Linked DNA regions of Homo sapiens: region 2 is linked to region 1. The links come from fine-mapping of genetic effects on gene expression. Tissue or cell type: blood mononuclear cells. Region 1 holds a variant in brackets; the other region holds the start of a gene. All regions are shown on one strand. Distances are from middle to middle.

What was found. PIP is the estimated chance that this variant, and not a neighbour inherited with it, causes the effect.
Region 2: F7 starts here. The variant in region 1 is fine-mapped to the expression of F7 in blood mononuclear cells (TOPMed, PIP 0.99).

What each region holds. Positions count from the first base shown.
Region 1 is chr13:113,194,509-113,201,247 of GRCh38, reverse strand. It overlaps PCID2 (PCI domain containing 2), which reads left to right. Exons shown (of 14, transcript NM_001127202.4): 2 at 732-821; 3 at 2,984-3,057; 4 at 4,005-4,070; 5 at 5,026-5,067; 6 at 6,123-6,177. Among named protein-coding and RNA genes, the nearest start is that of PCID2, 11 kb to the left of the region's middle. The variant T/C (reference allele first, on the strand shown) is at 3,280.
Region 2 is chr13:113,102,026-113,108,764 of GRCh38, reverse strand. F7 (coagulation factor VII) reads right to left here and starts at 2,974. Exons shown (of 8, transcript NM_019616.4): 1 at 2,860-2,974. The coding sequence starts at 2,923.

The DNA.
Region 1 (6,739 bases):
CTTACTACATACAGATCTATTTTATTCTTTTTAACAGCAGCCGAGTATCGCATTGTATGAATGTGACATCTATTTAGCTATTTCCATTTTCCTTTTATTTTATATTAAGGTTGAGTGGAAGCTTTTTGAATTTTGGATATATGTGGTTTTTAAACTGATTTCTTTTTCATAAGCTGTATATTTGGATTTTCAAACATATATTAGTGTGATTGAGTAAAATTAGAATAATTCATCTTCATGAAGAGCTACATGATAAACCACTGACTTATTTTTATTTGCTTAACCTGTTTTTTTGCTTCAGGAACATCTGTTTTTGTTTTTTTGGTCTGTTTTAAAGAGACGGGTCTTGCTATGTTGTCCAGGATGGTCTCGAACTCCTGGCTCAAGCAGTCCTTCCTCAGCCTCACAAAGTGCTGGGATTACAGGCCTGAGCCAGCCAGGAACAACCTATTTTGAAATGAAATTATTGTTTACGATTGCGCCACTGCAGTCCGCAGTCCGACCTGGGCGACAGAGCGAGACTCCGTCTCAAAAAAAAAAAAAAAAAAAAAGAAATTATTGTTTACCCACTGCAGAGAGTAGTGACCATCTGTTACATTTTGATTGTTCTGTCTTCTTTCAAAGTAGGGGAAAATGAATTTTCCCCTGTGTGGCATTCAGTGTATTGTTGTAGGTTCTATTCGAACAGAATATTTTATTTTCTACTTAGGTTTCCCTTTCAAATGTTTCAGGTGTACGAAGCCATCGACAGCAGAGATGGAGCATCTTGTGCAGAGTTGGTGTCTTTTAAACATCCTCATGTTGCAAACCCACGACTTCAAGTAGGTGAAAGAGCTGTGCACACAGGTGTCTGCAGACAATTACAGGGTAACCACTTTCCTAAGAGAAGCGTAGAGTTTGAGTAAGAAGAAAACTAATATTGTCACTCTTATTTGAAAATTTTAAAGTTTCTTTATGATTTATGTAATTTCAATCCATTTGTGGAGCACTGACTATGTACGCACACTGTGGTGATGTGGACCTCCTGCCCTTGTGTTTGATTCCTAGACAGCTCTCTGAGGTTTAGAGAAGTTAGATGGTGGAGAGGCGGTGGAGCTTAGATTCTGTCTAGGCCTGTGCGTCCCCAAAGCCCCATAGACGTCATGTACCACAGGTGTCTCCCATTTAAGTTGTTAGTCAGAAAGGCTGGCAAGCCAAGGCCCAGCCTGGGGTTGTACATGGAGTTTCCATGTCATCTGTGGCGTAGATGATGTTGAGGCAGTATTTTCTATAGAAAATCTTGTGGACATTTGGTAAAGCCCTGTTTCCTCATTGACACCCTTTATCATATTGGAGTGTGTTCCTACTGGAAGCAGCATTTTTCTTTTGGAAGAAAAATGGGCTTATCTATTGGTGATTATGTTTGGCGGTGTACAGACTTGCAACTCAGACCAGGTAAATCAGTCTCTGAAGTAGCAGCAGGCCTGTTTTTGTTTTTCTAATAAAGTTACCTAGGTGATTCTATGTGTAGACAGTGTTGAAAACCATTGCTCTAAGTAGGAGTTAGTGCTAGAGACTCGATGAGACTCAGGCTTGCCTTGGCCAGAACACCCCATGGCTGGTGCCCTGTGCTTTGTATTGTATGACATGAGAGGACACACACTGTCCTGTTTGCAATCTGAGACAGATCCCTTCATTGTAAAATTCCCCAGTAAACTTTCTTTCGGTGGTTTCATTCACCAGGGACTGTAGAATGGTGATTTTTCTGATACTGTCATTCTTCTCTCTCACCATATCAGCATGGGCTCATTGCTTTTGTAAACAAAACCAAACAAAACAAAAAAACGCAGTGTGCTTATAATCCATTGTGTGTTAGTCTGGGTTCTCCAGAGAAACAGAGCCAGTGGGATATATCAATATTTATAGAGATTTAGTATGAGGAACTGGGTCCTGTGATTGTAGAGGTCAAGAAATCCCACACAAGGAGTGAATTCTTTCTTCCTCGACCTCTTGTTCTATTCAAGCCCTCATCAGATTGGCCATTGCCCGTCCACACTGAGGAGGGCCATCTACTTTCCTGAGTCTACTAGTGCAACTGCCAGTCTCATCCAGAAACACCCTCACAGACACTCCCAGAAATAACATTGTCTGGGGACTCCACAGCTAGTCAAGTTGGCAAAATTAACCATCACCTGTTGAGATGTTCAGATTATCTAAAATTTGACTGTTAGGAGGAAAGGAAAACTTAGAAAGAAATGTCAGCTAGACTAGCCCAGGAGATGAGACTGGTGGTCTCAGCAGGAAGCCGAGAAGAACGAGTCCTAACATAGCACCATCTGTAACTCATTAGACCTCACTTACTAAACCTATGACAGTTACTTAACAAGTATTTCTTGACTGACTGGTCAAGAATACTAATATACTGAAATGTATATGAAAGTGCCTAGAATATTTTCTGACTTGCAGAAGGCGAGACCAAATTATATTCATGGGCTTCTTTTTCCCCTGAAATATTGATAAATATTTGTTGAAGTAATGAACCATTTATTTATTTATTTATTTATGAGACAGAGTCTCCCTCTGTCACCCAGGCTGTAGTGCAGTGGCACGATCTTGGCTTACTACAACCTCCCCCACCCATGTTCAAGCGATTCTCATGCCTCAGCCTCCTGAGTAGCTGGGATTACCAGCGTGTACCACCACATCCAGCTAATTTTTGTAATTTTTTTTGTAGAGACGGGCTTTCACCATGTTGGCCAGGCTGGTCTTGAACTTCTAGCCTCAAGTGATCTGCCCACCTCGCCCTCCCAAAGTGCTGGGATTACAGGCATGAGCCACTGTGCTCACGGCCTGAACCTTTTATTTAGAGTGGTAAATATAAAGTGTTACTGTGAACTGTAAAGCATAAATTCTCTTGAAACAGAGGTTTAAATCTCTTTCTATATGTTGCATTCTTTCTGTGCCTATTAATTTTACTTTTGCTATTTTTCTTTTTTAAAATCAGATGGCCTCTCCAGAGGAGAAGTGTCAACAAGTCTTGGAACCCCCTTATGATGAAATGTTTGCAGCTCATTTAAGGTAATCTGTTGGGGAGGAAGAAAAACACACACATCTGGAAATTGCTGAATTAACTGGGGATTTTATCTTGCATTATCTTGTGCTTGAAGCAGTGAATAACTGACTTTGAAAAAGTGGGAAAATGCATTTGTAACTTCAGTTTGGTAAAGCCTGTGGAAATTGTAAACATCAGTTATATAATACTATTTTTAACATCACACAGTATTTAGCAGAGTGCCTGCT[T/C]AGTGGTCTTTTTAGTAGAGTTTGGAGCCGAACTGTTCACTTACCCTTTTCGTGGAAATATGTCTGTTTTTGAAGCTCTTTACGTTACTGGGAAAGAAATTAGAGTTGAGCAAAGCAAACAATGCTACTTTTTATGTACACTTCATATCTACTGTTTTATCTCTAAAGGATCAGTTCAGGCAGAAGATTGTGTCCTTATAGCCATGTGAGATTTGATTACTGTCTTTCAGAGCAGCCTGGGCTACAGGACCAGTGTGGGGTCTGTGAGCAGGAATGTTCTGTGAACCCCACAGGGTCTTTGGAAGAGTTGGGGCACCACCGTGTTCCTTGTAGTACAAAGCACCTGTGATTTCCTAGCTCTGTGCAGTGTGCGATAGGTTCCAGATTTGGCGATGAACTAACACTGACATTACCCAGCTGGGAATCTAGTTTGAATGTCATTGTCAGCCCCTGCTAGAGTGGAAGGGTCATACTATGTTATCAACATGTGTTACTCATAAACCTGCTGGTGCTAGGTCCTTCTGGGACTTGAAAGAGTAGTCTCCAAGCTTACTGTGGGACTTCCTCTTATCCTCACCTGTTTGTGTTCAGCCATTTGTGTGTTTCTTCCTTCACTCCTTTCATCCCAGGACCACTGGGACCTGTGCAATGAAGTGAGCTGTGTGGGCTGCATAACTAGTGCTAGGTTTTTATTGTGTGACAGCATGTTTCTGTTTCTCCTCCAGGTGCACTTATGCAGTGGGGAATCATGACTTCATAGAGGCATACAAGTGCCAGACCGTGATAGTCCAATATCCTTTGTCGTTCATGGCAGCTGTCCCGCATAGAACACATGCAGTGGATTACTTGGGACTTGAGACCCGGAAACACTGGGCCAGTTGCTCATTTCTGCAGTTAGAAAGGAATGACAGTGTTTTGGAACAGAAGCTCGTTTCAGCTCTTTCACTTGGGTACTTAAATTTAGCATGGATCTGAAGACTCGTGCAGTACTTAGTAAGGAAGAACACTGGTTAGGAAGAAGGATCTTACTCTGCTGAGAAGAAGAATGCTTTGTTGCCTTTAGTAAGGTAGTAAGTATATTTACAGGGACTGGTTAAGTCCTGTTGGTGAAATACCAGAAATCCAGAATTCAGGCAGAGATGGACAAGAGTGGCCTCAGATGTACATCGGCATTGAATTGTGGCAGCTGAAGACCTTAAATCAAACCAATTCATACTTCAGTCATTTAAAGGGTATCTTTAGTTACGGCCTGAGTCAGTGAGTGTGCTAAGGATTTGTATGTATCTCTAGATTTTGTCTTTTCGTTTTAACCACCTTGTTTAAATATACACAGAAGAGAGTTGGGCTATTTGCTCACAGCCTCCTTAGAATTCAAGAATTCTAGAGTTGATAAAATCAGCCTTATGCTACAGATTCTAAAGCACTTAAATATAACTCATGATCATCTGGGCTCAGAGAAACCAAATAAAATGTCAGAAAGGGCTGATTTTAAAAAATCTTGTAAGTCTTTTTTATTTAGGAGACAGTGTGTATGAAATAAGTGTATTTAGTATACTTGAGCCTAATGAGATACAGATATTTGTAATGTGAGCTTATACCTTTTTTCCTTCAAGAACTTACTATTGTTGCAACATAAATCTGCTCAAGGGTGATCTACATTCCTTAAAATTTAGATTCTTATTCTTTACTTTTATCGTACGTAGCATTATTTGAACTTTGTATGCCATATCTTCCTTAATACAGTACATCATTCTTGCGAGCATTCCAGGCCCACAAAGAAGAAAACTGGTAAGTGTGAACAGAAACAGCTGAATTAGCAAATGGCAATTTTTTTAGCAGAATCTTTTTACAAATTTGCTTTAAATAAATGTGTATTGTATTTTCCATGTGGATATTTGGTAATCAGTGTGTTGACATATGGTAATATCTACACAGATGAGTGGAGTCACAAATCTAGTAAACTGAAATGGTAGATCAGCCACATTGTTTGCAGTGTGTCTATGTCAATATAGTATTATTTTTATTTCAGATGTCCATTTCCCTAGATATTTATTAAATACTGTTTTTTCCTTCAGTTGTCAATTTTGAACTTTTGGTTTTAAACCTTAGATAAAAGAGGTAGACCAACTACGGTTCATTTGGGGTGTTCTAATACATAATAATGGTGGTATTTTTAAATGCCTTGCCAAACTAAATTTTATGATTTATTAACAAACTATAGGTTAATACTGAAATTTGTTTATACTGAAATAACCAAAGGCCTTTTGCAAACAAACCCGCCCTTTTATCTTTTTTTTTTTTTGAGAAGGAGTCTTGCTCAGTCGCCGAGGCTGGAGTGCAGTGGCGCAGTCTTGGCTCACTGCAGCCTCTGCCTCCCGCCACCCTTTTATCTTTTAACGTGAAAACTTGCACATGAAAACAGTCCAGTTTTGCCAGTTGGCTGTAAAAGTTGTTTTGTGACATTTTGTGTATTACATATTCTGGTTCCTGTTAGGAAATCTGATCAAACCACTTCTTTTTTAGTGGTGCTGTTTGGATACTGGTGGGAAGCTGAGGGGAGGAGGATATCCTGGGAGCCCAGAACTGAAGCAGGGCTGAGGTCTCTGACAGGGTTGGGGACAGGGGTGTGGAGCACCGCATTGTGGGGCCCCAGGATGATCAGGAAGTCTGAGGCCTGCAGCCTGCCTGGACAGAAGGTGAGGAAGCAGACAACTGTCAGAGTTTTGGATAAGTGCGGACTCCATTCTGGATAGTAGCCCTGGGTGTCCGTGTTCTTCCCACCTCTGGGGATGGAATCTTGGCCCACGTAGCCCCTCACACTTGTTTACTTTTTTGCCCTGCAGGGCTCTGCCTGTCATGTATGCAGTAGCGCTTGACCTTCGAGTGTTTGCCAATAATGTAAGTTTAATTTGCTGTCATTATTATTTTAAAACTAAAACTTGGTGACTATCTGTTGTTTAATTTCATGTCATTCTTCCCAGAAGTTTTGAGGAGCAAATTGGAGTTGAGATGTGTCTGGTATAGGGAGCAAAAGAAAGATATTGACTATTCTTTCTGGGTTAACACCAACAGATTTATATAAACATTTGCTCAGATTTCCACACTGTTCATATAGAGGGAGAGGTTCCATTTTGTGGTTAACCATTTATGGTATGTGTTATTTTTATGAAGTGAGTGGAACAACAACAAATGAGCTTATTCTGCATCTCTTCTACCTTTAAGATGTGGCCTGCTCCCCCACCAAAAAGAATTCAGCTTCATATAGATTTGGGCAGTAGGAGGGGGCTTCCCTGGGGTGAAGGGAGATCCTGGGTTTTATGGAGGCGACGTCCCCATGGGGACCCACGGAAGTCCCCATTATGGAGCAGCATTTGTCAACCTTTTGGTTTTAGGACGACCCCTTTACAGTTTTAGAAATGATTGTTGACTTCAGTTCCAGTCAGGATGCAATGGATTTCAC
Region 2 (6,739 bases), 92 kb after region 1:
CACCCTCGCCTCTGGAACACCCACACTCCCGGGACACCCACGACCCCCGGGACACCCACACCCCCGGGACACTCACACTTCTGGGATACCCTCGCCTCTGGAACACCCACACTCCCGGGACACCCACGCCCCCGGGACACCCACACTCCTGGGACACCCTCGCCTCCGGGACACCCACACTCCCGGGACACCCACTCCCCCGGGACACCCACACTCCCGGGACACCCACGCCCCCGGGACACCCACGCTCCCGGGACACCCTCGCCTCCGGGACACCCACGCTCCTGGGACACCCTCGCCTCCGGAACACCCACACTCCCGGGACACCCACTCCCCCGGGACACCCACACTCCCGGGACACCCACACCCCCGGGACACCCACACCCCCGGGACACCCACACTCCCGGGACACCCTCGCCTCCGGAACACCCACACTCCCGGGACACCCTCGCCTCCGGAACACCCACACTCCCGGGACACCCACAACCCCCGGGACACCCACGCCCCCGGGACACCCACACTCCCGGGACACCCTCGCCTCCGGAACACCCACACTCCCGGGACACCCTCGCCTCCGGAACACCCACACTCCCGGGACACCCACGCCCCTGGGACACCCACACTCCCGGGACACCCTCGCCTCCGGAACACCCACACTCCCGGGACACCCTCACCTCCGGAACACCCACACTCCCGGGACACCCACGCCCCCGGGACACCCACACTCCCGGGACACCCTCGCCTCCGGAACACCCACACTCCCGGGACACCCTCACCTCCGGAACACCCACACTCCCGGGACACCCACGCCCCCGGGACACCCACACCCCCGGGACACCCACGCCCCTGGGACACTCACACTTCTGGGATACCCTCGCCTCCGGAACACCCACGCCCCCGGGACACCCACGCCCCCGGGACACCCACGCCCCCGGGACACGCACACTCCCGGGACACCCTCGCCTCCGGAACACCCACACTCCCGGGACACCCACACTCCCGGGACACCCACGCCCCCGGGACACCCACACTCCCGGGACACCCACGCCCCCGGGACACCCACACTCCCGGGACACCCACGCCCCCGGGACACCCACGCTCCCGGGACACCCACGCCCCCGGGACACCCACACTCCCGGGACACCCTCGCCTCCGGGACACCCACACTCCCGGGACACCCACTCCCCCGGGACACCCACACTCCCGGGACACCCTCGCCTCCGGGACACCCACACTCCCGGGACACCCACTCCCCCGGGACACCCACACTCCCGGGACACCCACGCCCCCGGGACACCCACACTCCCGGGACACCCTCGCCTCCGGGACACCCACACTCCCGGGACACCCACTCCCCCGGGACACCCACACTCCCGGGACACCCTCGCCTCCGGGACACCCACACTCCCGGGACACCCACGCCCCCGGGACACCCACACTCCCGGGACACCCACGCCCCCGGGACACCCACACTCCTGGGACACCCACGCCCCCGGGACACCCACACTCCCGGGACACCCACACCCTTGGAGGCTGGTGTGAGCAGAGCCGGTGACCGCCCTGGGGTGAAAGCAGATTTGCATCAGAAAAGCTCTCAAGAACTGAGGAAAACCTGATGAAGAACACACGATTATCTGGAAGGAACAGAATGGAGCAAAGAAGATAAAATCGCCTGCACCCCAGTCCCAGGGAAGGCCAAGCTGGAGCGGTCACTTCCTCTCGAGCAGGGAACACCCTCCTTGGGGGGCACTGCAGTAGCCACCCCGCGGGCTGGCTCTTTGCCATGGGAGGGGAAGGAGGTGATGTTGGCCCCCACTGGGCCCCAGGACAAAACCAGTGGCAGTCCCTGCTCACCTCTGTGAGGCCCCGGCTTCCACGGCATGTCCCGTGTTTCTCCTCCTGAGGCCTTAGCGACCCCGCCTGGGGCAGGAAGGTGGCCGGGGTCATAAGGCCATGCTGTGAGCTAGGGCTGCAGCCCCACATCCCAGGCACTGTCCCTCACAGCCCACCCCCCACTCGCCATCCCCACACGCCATCCCCACGCCCCACTAGCCATCCTCACGCCACACCCCCTACTCGCCATCCCCATGCCCCACTCACCATTCCCAGGCCCCAGCCCCACTCGCCATCCCCACCCCCCCATGCCCCATCCTCTGCACCCCACACGCCCTTTCCATGCCCCATCCCCCACACCCCACATGCCCCATCCCCGACACCCCACACACCCCATCCCCCACACCTCCATGCCCCATCCCCTGCACCCCACACGCCCTTTCCATGCCCCATCCCCCACACCCCACACACTTTCCCACACCTCACCCCCACACCCCATGCCCCACATGCTGTTTCCCAGGCCCCACCCCCCCACGGCCCATCCCCCACACCCCACACGCCATCCCCACCCCCGATCCTCCACACCCCATCCCCTACGCCCCACATGCCGTTTCCCACACCCCATCCCCCATGCCCCAGGCGCCATCCCCCACGCACCGTCCCCTACCTGTGCTCCCCAGCCTGGGAGCACCCTGTGCGCACTTCCTGCACTCTGAGAGGCCCCAGACTCCCTGCGCTTGTCCGACCTCACAGGCAGGGGCCCATGGGGGCCAGGAAAGCACCACCCACTCCTAAAGTTCTTTGAAAAATAATCCCGCCAAAGCCTGGGCCACCAAGAAGGGCCTCCCCTCCTGTGCCTGGATGCTGGTTTCTAGAAGGAAAGAAATTGAACAGGAGCCGCCAGAAAACCCTCCTGGTGGATGGGGGTGTCCGGAGCAAGGGCGGGGTTTGGGAAGCCCGGGCTGGCTCCTGGATTTGCCCACTGCCCTTCCACCAAGTTTATGGAGAAAACCTCCCCGGACGCACCTGCAGCCAGGCAGCCCTGAAGCCCAAGCAGAAGGCAGAGGAGCCTGAGGGCCTGGGAGACCATGATGAAATCTCTGCAGTGCTGCCCCTGCCTGTTGACATTCCCCATGGGACTGACGGGCAAAGTTCTCTGCCTCCAAGGGTGACAGAGGGATGGGGGAGGGGAGGACACAGGCGTCCTCTGAACACCCCAGCTGAGAGCTGCACCTGGCCGGCCAGTGGCCATGCATCCCCTGCTGCCCAGCCACTGAGCTCAAGTGGGGGGGACAGGAGAAAGGTCAGGTGACCCCAGCTGTGCTGCAGAGCGGACGGTTTTGTTGCCAGCGTGCAGGTGTTAAGGTGTGTGTGGCACCAACACTTCAAATACGATCTAGAATTCCAAACCCCTAATGTAAGTTGGGAAACAGATTTAAACTGCAGATGAAAACTTGTCCCATAGCAATCATGCGAGTCAAATCTCAAGACTGTATCTTGGGTGTGGATGTAAATATTTGAAGAGAGCCTCCAGACCAGGCCAGCTAGGCCGTTGCCTGCAAGGGAGGCTGGTTTCTTAGGTGAGCCACAGAGCCTCACTGAGAAGTGCCGGGAATAGGATCATTCTGGCCCTGAGCTGGGCACCCCCACTCCGTTTTGACTGCAGGCAGCACCCCCATTCTCCAGCGGTCCACATCTTACGTCTTTTTGTTTGTTTTGTTTTGTTTGTTTGAGACAGAGTCTTGCTCTGTTGCCAGGCTGGAGAGTGCACTGGTGCAATCTCACTGCAACCTCCACCTCCCGGGTTCAAGTGATTCTTGTGCCTCAGCCTCCTGAGTAGCTGGGACCACAGGTGCACGTCACCATGCCTGGCTAATTTATATATATATATTTTTTTTTTTTAGCAGAGATGGGGTTTCACCGTGTTGACCAGGCTGGTTTCGAACTCCTGACCTCAAGTGATCCACATGCCTCAGCCTCCCAAAGTGCTGGGATTACAGGCGTGAGCCACTGTGCCCGGCTGGCGGCAGTCCACGTCATTTCTACCTGCTGTCATGGGCCCAAGCCACAAGCTGTGGTGACTAACCACCCCAGGTTGCCCAGGGACTGAGGGTTCTCAGAATGTGGAACTTTCCATCCCAAAAACACTGGGGTAGACGGTCATCCAAGCCTCCTGGGTTGCCCAGCAGGCCTGTCTGACCCCTCAAGCAGGGAGTATCCTCCATGTGAACAGTTGCATTGCTGATGACTTCTTTGGAAGCTGATGTCCAGTTCTTTTTACGGCTGGAGGGAGGGAGGTGATTCCTTCCCAACAGCCAAGTCTTAGCTCAGGGGTGCCTTTCAAAGCAGCCCCCAGCACCCCCAAAGCCTCCCTGCTTGCTGCTGACCTGCATCTCAGTCCAGAGAGCAGAGCACTTGCTGAGGGGCCGACAGGGCATGTTTTCTCTTCCACCCAGCACAGCTGAAGCCCATCTGTGCCCCTCCATGATATCGATCCCAGGGAGATCGCTTACAAAGTAGCTGCTCCGTCTGGAATAAAGCTCACGTCCAGCTCAAATCTGGTCCCCGCGGCTCTCGGCCAGCACAGCCCAAGGTAATTTCAGGACGTGGAGGGGAGGGGGCCATATCTAAACCCTACCCCTTTCCCACCTGAGAGTAGATGGCTGGCTGGTCTTAGGGTACCCTTCCCCTTTGGGGCTCCAGGTCAGAGGTCCTCAACCCTCTCTGGGCAGCAGAATGACCTGGGGAACCTCAAGCGCCAAAACCCCCTGAGAGATTCAGTGGCTCATGGCCTCGGGGCTGGTGAAGCTCTTCAGGTGATGGACCCTCACCTGCATGCAGCCCTCTCTGTGCGGGCAGGCGGGAGGGGGCAGGAACCGGGCTATCTGGCTGGGCTCTCTGCCCGTCTCACTGCTGGCCAGGGCGGCTGCAGGTGCCCGCCTATGGCCATTGTCCTGGTGTGGGTCCTTGAGGACACAGGTGTGAGGGGCTCCACCTGGCCCCGGGGACCCGCTCCATACCTCCCTGAGGGGGACCTGCCTGCTGGTCTCCCTCCCACGTCTGTCCCAGGGGCATGCCTGGAACCTTGCCTGGGGCTGGACCCGGCCACACGGAGTAGCAGGTGTGGGGGCTGCTGCACCATCCCTCTCACAAAACCCCACTTCCTCCCTTCAGGGAGGCTAACCAGGCTCTCCCAGGACTCCCGGGACCTCCTCTGGGGCCTCCTTGGACATGCTGTGGCCCTGTCACTAGGATGGGAGGGTCCTTCAGCCCCTACCCTGGGGAAGGGCACGGTCACAGCTCTGTTCCCAGGCCAGGCCTCCCTCTCTCCTGTGGCAGCCTCTGTTGATCCACCCATCCACTCATTCCCGCCTGCAAGAAGGGCTGGGCCCCTCCGCCTCACAGTCACTCTTGAGTGTGGAGGACACAGGAAAACTTTGGTTGTCATCTCAAGGCAAGTTGCTTGTTTGGGGGCTACAGAAACCACGTCAGCACCTTGTTCATCTGCAGCCATCCCTGACTGTGGTGGTGGGCACACGTGAGCTGTCCAGGGAGTGTGTGAGTCAGATGTCTGTGACATCAGAATCTCTTGGGTGGTGGCTCATGCCTGTAATCCCAGCACTTTGGGAGGCTGAGGACTGAGGATCGCTTGAGGAAAGGAGTTCCAGACCAACCTGGGCAACATAGCAAGACCAAAGCTAGACAAAAAATAAAAAAATTAGCTGGGCTTGGTGGTTCATGCCTGTGGTCCCAGAGACAGAGAACCCGGGAGGCAGAGGTTGCAATGAGCTGAGATTGTGCCACTGCACTCAAGCCTGGGCGACAGAGGGAGACCCTGACTCCTTCCCTACCAAAGAATCTCCATGCTCACACTCGTACATGAGAACCACGCTCGCACAACCCAAACTCACGCCATACACATACCACACTCACACACACCGTACACATGCCACACTCATACCCCAAAGTCACACCACATAAACACACCCCTATACACATGCCACACACCTACACACACGTGATTTCCAGGCTCTTCCACACCCATAAGGAATTGGAATCTACGGGCAGGTCCCGGGAATAGTATTGAACAAACATCCAGGGAAACTGCTATGTGTTCTCGTTTTGGGAACCAGTGAGCACATCCCACCTGGTGCCAAATGCATCTCGGCAGGACGCATGTATGCCAGGGAAACAGGCAGCCACTAACAGGATTTGAGCTTGGGCACCAATTGGTTCCAAATCCTATTTGGTGCAATCCTAGAAGCAAGGGTTTCCTTGTGACGGAGGGTGCAGGGCATGGGAGGACAGAGGAGCTGCGTGCACGGATGCCTGTGTGCCCTGTGCCTGCAAAGCCGCCACAGCAAGCTGTCTTGCAGGCCAGTTCCAATGGCTGACAGTGTGTGCACTGGCGAGGAAAAGCCTGTGCTAAGCGGAACTCTGCTGTCTGTGCAGAGAAGGGAGCTGGGCCTGGGCACCACTGTCAGCCAGTAGAGCACGGGGCTGCTCCCTCCACCCCACCCGGGTGCTTTGCCTTCTTGGGGCCACAGCTGGAGGCAGCTGAGCCCTCGGGCCTGCCGGGTGTCACACCAGTGCTGTAGGATGCTAACTTTCAGTTTAAGAGAGAGAATGTATGCAAGGTTGAACAGTTATGATTTTGAGCAGAATTTTTCTTCTCTGGGCCTTGGTCCTGCTTTTCACCCTTGTCTGGGGTCTTAGCGTGGAGAGAAATTCACCATGGGATGTGCTCAGATTGTCCATCTTATCTTTTTGTCCATCTCTTAAAGTGTAGCTTGTCTTTTGTAAGAAATCTATCCTTGCCCTAGGCAATAAGAATATTCTGTTTCCTCATAATAATGTTTTAATCTTAAGTTTGGGGGGGCTATACTTTTATGCCATCATCCACATG